Regions from separate parts of the Homo sapiens genome. Here region 1 is linked to region 2. Evidence: fine-mapped expression QTL. A gene starts in region 2. The other region holds a variant in brackets. All regions are shown on one strand. Distances are between the middles of the regions. Region 1 has its middle 82 kb from the start of NEURL3. Region 2 holds the start of DUSP2 (dual specificity phosphatase 2).

Region 1 (2,900 bases), 280 kb before region 2:
GACTGGACAGAGCTCTTTTATTAATTAATTTTGGCAACACCATGTGGAGATAGAAAACTATCACATGTACATCACATACATACATGGACAAATGCAAATAGAGATCTTACAGCTTTCCGTTCCTTTTTTTTTTTTTTTTTTTGAGATAATCTCGCTCTGTTGCCCAGGCTGGAGTGCAGGCCTGATCTTGGCTCAAGTGATTCTCATGCCTCAGCCTCCTGAATTGCTGGGATTACAGCCATGCACCACCACACTTTGCTACTTTTTGTATTTTTAGTAGAAACTGGGTCTCAGTTTGTTGGTCAGGCTGGTCTCAAACTCCTGGCCTCAAGTGATCTGCTCACCTCGGCTTCCCAAAGTGCTGGGATTACAGGCATGAGCCACTGCACAAGGCCCATTCTAAAATTTTAATACACTCTTATCTTTGATATTTGTATCTGAATTGTGTGTTGCTTTTGTGTATGTGTATGTGTTTGTGGGGGAGATTTTTAAGATTTCCTTCTGCCCTGTTATGTAATCCCTTGGAGCCTGTGGATCACATTTCAAGCATGTTACTAAGGAGATGCTGGGGGCTGCCTGAATGTCCTCACAGCCCACGTGAGTGGATAAAAATTTAATCTAATTCCAATCAGCTTTTTTCTTTTCAGCTTCAGGAAGTTGCTTTTGGGATAACATGAGTCCCCTGAGAGCCCCTGATTGGGGCAGGGGGACTGAAATGGCTGAGGGAGCCAAGGGCTGGGAAAGAGAAATGTCTGGTGGGGGTGGACAGAGGCAGGAGGGGGAGGAGTTTAAAGGGGACACATCAAAGGATTCAAGGGAGCTGAAGGGAAGATCAAAGGTGGTCGGAGGAGGAAGGAGGAGGAAATAATGGGAAGACGGAGGTCTTAGAGGGGCCGTTTTGGGGAGGTCTTAAGTTTCCCAGAAAGACCAATCAAGTTCTAAATTATCCTCAGCCAGCTCATGCACTAAGAAGATGGACAGAGCTGGTGGAGCATATAGTTAGCCAGGGTTCAAGAAGGAAGTTTCAGTGGACTGAAAGATTCCCGTGGGAGGAGCAGGGCCAAATAGAGAACAGAGAGCCTTCATGAAGAGCCAGGGAAGAATCTTCCAGCCCAGGATTTGGGGAGGGGAT[C/TC]CCCACTTGAAACAAAGTGAGGAAGAATTTACCAGCCCAGAGCCAGGCCTAGGAGTCAGAGAATGAATGAATCATCTCCACTGCAAACAAAGAGCGGGACTTCCAGTACAGCAGGCAGCTTCCAATCAAAGATGCTTGGGCCTAGCACTGTGGCTCATGTCTGTAATCCTAGCACTTCCAGAGGCTGAGGCAGGAGGATTGCTTAAGCCCAGGAGTTTGAGACCAGCCTGGGCCAATCCTATCTCTAAAAAATAAAATAAAGTTAGGTGTGTGTGGTGGCATGCACCTTGATATGGCTTGTCCCCACCCAAATCTCACCTTGAACTGTAATAATCCCCAAGTGTCAAGAACAGGGCCAGGTGGAGATAACTGACTCATAGGGCTGGTTCCCCCATACTGTCCTCATGGTAGTGAATAAGTCTCGCAAGATCTGATGGTTTTATAAATGGGAGTTCCCTTGCACAAGCTTTCTTGCCTGCTGCCATGTAAGACGTCTCTTTGCTCTTCCTTCATCTTCCACCACGATTGTGAGGCTTCCCCAGCCATGTGGAACTGTGAGTCCATTAAAAATCTTTCCTTTATAAATTACTTAGTCTCGGGTATGTCTTTATTAGCCACATGAGAACAGACTAATACACAGCTGTAGTTCCAGCTACTCAGGAGGCAGAAGTGGGAGGATCACTTGAGGCCAGGAAGTCAGGGCCACAGTGAGCTATGATTGCTCACTCCAGCCTAGGTGATAGAGCAAGAACCTGGTCTCTAAAAACAAAACAAAACAAAACAAACTTGACTGTAACCCAGCTTCTTACAGAGAGAGAATCTTGAGACTCTAATTCAGCTTTTAGCTTATACTCAGTCTTAAGAATAGAAATCTGTGCTCACACTAGACCGCCTCTCTAGATTCTTCTTCACTGGGCAGGGCCTCTCTGAAAGAAAGGCAGCAGCCCCAGTCAGGGGCTTATAGATAAAACTCCCATCTCATTGGGACAGAGCCACTGGGGGAAGGCATGGCTGTGGGCACAGCTTCAGCAGAATAAAACGTTCCTGCCTGCCGACTCTGAAGACAGCAGTGGATCCTGACAATAAGGGTTCTACCAGCACAGCACTTGAGCTCTGCTAAGGGACAGACTGCCTCCTTAAGTGGGTCCCTGACCCCCGTGCCTCCTGACTGAGAGAGACCTCCCAACAGGGGTTGACGAACACCTCATACAGGAGAGTTCCAGATGGCATCAGGCCAGTGCCCCTCTGGGACAGAGCTTCCAGAGGAAGGAGCAGGCAGCAATCTTTGCTGTTCTGCAGCCTCTGCTGGTGATACCCAGGCAAATAGGGTTTGGAGTGGACCTCTAGCAAACTGCAGCAGACCTGCAGAAGAGGGACCTGACTGTTAGAAGAAAAACTAACAAAAAGAAAGCAATAACATCAACATCAACAAAAAGAAGCCCCACACAGAAACCCCATCCAAAGGTCATTAGCCACAAATATCAAAGGTAGATGAATCCACAAATATGAGGAAAACCAGTGCAAAAATGCTGAAAATTCCAGAAACCAGAATGCCCCTTCTCCTTCAAATGATTGCAAGTCCTCTCCAGCAAGAACACAAAACTGGACAGAGAATGAGTTTGACAAATTGACAGAGGTAGACTGTGGGTAATAACAAACTCCTCTGAGCTAAAGGAGCATGTTGTAACTCAATGCAATGAAGCTAAGAACCTTGACAAAAGGTTACAGAAACTGCTAATTAGAATAACCAGTTTAGAAAAGAATATAA
Region 2 (2,900 bases):
TGCCAAAGATAAGGGCTCATATCAGCCTTTGGGATCTGTGGCCCAGACTCCCTGGCTCTGTTGTGGGCTTTGCTGCCTCAGCCTCCAGACTGGCCTGCCAGGGACAGCGGGGCCTCAGCCAAGTTGCCCAGACAGTGGAGTAGCCTTAGAGCGTTGGAGCCAGTGTGGAAGAGCCGCTGCACCATGATGTGCTCCCCTTACAGATGGAGACACTGAGAGGGTGACGTGGCCCCAGGGACCTTTGGAGTCCTTGGGGCTTTTCTCCTCTGCATCGGCTCTGACCCCAGCACACACAAGCTCCAGCTCCTTCTCACACATAGTGGAACTGCACAGGTACGATGCTGCCCTGCACACAACCAGGCATACAGCACACTGCTGTGAGGAACTCAGGGCAGACAAGTCCAGAAGGGCTGCGGGCTCTCCACAGGTCCCAGCTGTCACTCTTCAAGACGGTCTGGACACAGGGGTCTGTGGGGGAGCCGGAAGGGTCTTTCAGAGGGCACGGAGGAGGGCCTCAGGAGACTGGGGGCTTGGAGGGTGGGTTCTGAAATCCCACGCAGCTGGGGGCAGGGCGAGGGCAGCTCCAGCGCAGTGACGCTGTCTCCACCCACCTCAACTTCTCTGCTTGAGTTTGGGAGTTCACTGCCAACAATTCTTGTGGCTCAGACACCCCACGCACACCTGGGCCTCACCACATCCGGCAGCAGGGCTGGGGGAGGGCGGAATGGAGGGGATACCCAGGCCCCCAGTCCTCCGGGTGCAGTGCTAGCCCTGGACTTTGCTGCCCGGCGGGGCTGGACAGGGAGGCCTAGGATGGGGGAGGCCAGTTCTGTTCTGCTTCTCCCTCTTCCCCTTGCCAAGGTCTTGAAATCCCCGCAGGCCTGGGGAGGGCCGGGAGCGTCAGCGGACTTCCCTCCAGGGCGGGCTTGTGGCAGGGGGAAGTACTTCTCTCTGGGGCCTGGGGGCTTTCCCTGCACCCAGGAGGAAGAAGCTTTGCCCTACACATAACTGGAAACCAGTCACAGACCCCTGCTTTCCCCATGAAAGGCCCTGGGACCCCCCCTCATTTCCCTTCGGCCCAAGCCCAGGGGCCTGGGCCCCGGGGACTGTGTTCTGGCCTAGCTTGGCCACCAACCTACTGCAAGACCCTGAGTACTGGTCTTATCCAGGCAATGGGGGGTGGGGAGGGGGAGGAGAGAGAAAGTCCCTCTGGCTCAAGGTCTCCAAATAGATGAGAAATAGGACATCTCAGCAGGGACCCCCCCCATCATCCAGTGTAGAAATCACCCGTGGCAGCAGGCATTTGTCAATGTTTGTGGTGACAAATTTCTAAGAGGAAAATTCTGGGAGGGAAAGGGAAAAGGCAGAGGAAGCGTGGGGTTAGGGGGTGGGGTACTCCAAGGGTCATCGTTGGCCCTAAAGGGGGACCTGCATCTGAGAAGCTGGGTTCCCCAGGACTGAGTGGCTTGGGACAGGTCAAAGGGTGGGCGCAAAAACGGAGGGGTGCTAGTCCCTCCGACTCCGGGTAACACCTTCCCTTCCCTTAGTCGCTGGTCCCCGCCTCCTCCCGGTGTGTTGGTCCCCGCGCCCTGCCTTCCCCCTCAACCTCCCCCCCGCCCCGAAGTCTCCAGGTCAGCCCAGACTGCGCCCCACGTGAGGGGCGGGGGCGGGCGCGGGCGCCAGCGCCTTCCTGCTCTGCCCTTGTATGGTGCCCCGGAGGCCGGCCCACGGGTACTTAACCCGGGCCGCCGCGGAGGGCGCCCGGAGTCGACCGCTCGGGCAGCGCCACCGCCACGAGAGCCCGGGACGCGGGAAAGACCGAAAGGAAGAGGAAGAGGCACCGGTGGCCATGGGGCTGGAGGCGGCGCGCGAGCTGGAGTGCGCGGCGCTGGGCACGCTGCTGCGGGATCCGCGGGAGGCGGAACGCACGCTGCTGCTGGACTGCCGCCCCTTCCTGGCCTTCTGCCGGCGCCACGTGCGCGCCGCGCGGCCAGTGCCTTGGAACGCGCTGCTGCGGCGCCGCGCGCGCGGCCCTCCTGCCGCCGTTCTCGCCTGCCTGCTGCCCGACCGCGCGCTGCGGACGCGCCTGGTCCGCGGGGAGCTGGCGCGGGCCGTGGTGCTGGACGAGGGCAGTGCCTCGGTGGCGGAGCTCCGGCCCGACAGCCCGGCTCATGTGCTGCTGGCCGCGCTGCTGCACGAGACCCGCGCGGGGCCCACTGCCGTGTACTTCCTGCGAGGTGAGCAAGCCGGCCGCCCTTGGCCCGCCCCACCCGACTCCAGCCCGGCTTTCCCTGCTGATCGTGCTCTTCCCCTCCTTGCAGGAGGCTTCGACGGCTTCCAGGGCTGCTGTCCCGATCTGTGCTCTGAGGCCCCCGCCCCTGCGCTGCCGCCAACAGGGGACAAAACCAGCCGCTCCGACTCCAGGGCTCCTGTCTACGACCAGGTGAGTATTGACCCCCCTCCCCCGAACCTCCCTCTCTCCCCGCCGCGGACTGGGCGCCTCTAGGGAAAGAGCCTGCCATTTGGGGATGCGAGCAGTTTGCCCATATACACACACTTTTATACGTGTGTGTGTTGGGGGAGGGGGTGGGGCATGGCTGCTCGCGCGTGCCTGTATGGGTCTGTGTATGTTTGCATGTGTATGTTGGGAGCATGAAGGGAAATGTATGTCCCGGTGTGTCCTCCGCACATTCCTGAGACCTGTCTCAGGTCAGGAGGACTGGCTGAGGAGTCCTCTTGTCTCGGCCAGCCCATGGGGTCTCCACCCGCTGCTGCTCCAGCTCTCCGGGGCTGGGCTGGAAAGGCCTCACCGCCCCTCTGTTCCCTCCAGGGTGGCCCTGTGGAGATCTTGCCCTACCTGTTCCTGGGCAGCTGCAGTCACTCGTCAGACCTGCAGGGGC

What was found. PIP is the estimated chance that this variant, and not a neighbour inherited with it, causes the effect. A credible set is the group of variants that fine-mapping cannot tell apart.
Region 1: its variant is the best candidate, but not a certain one, in a credible set for the expression of DUSP2 in whole blood (TOPMed, PIP 0.63).

Annotation. Positions count from the first base shown.
Region 1 is chr2:96,421,788-96,424,687 of GRCh38, reverse strand. No RefSeq gene overlaps it. Among named protein-coding and RNA genes, the nearest start is that of NEURL3, 82 kb to the left of the region's middle. RefSeq lists an enhancer at 2,359-2,860. The variant C/TC (reference allele first, on the strand shown) is at 1,133.
Region 2 is chr2:96,144,304-96,147,203 of GRCh38, reverse strand. DUSP2 (dual specificity phosphatase 2) reads left to right here and starts at 1,764. Exons shown (of 4, transcript NM_004418.4): 1 at 1,764-2,237; 2 at 2,322-2,443; 3 at 2,831-2,900. The coding sequence starts at 1,850. RefSeq lists enhancers at 205-1,084, 1,881-2,382, 2,785-2,834 and a silencer at 1,395-2,154.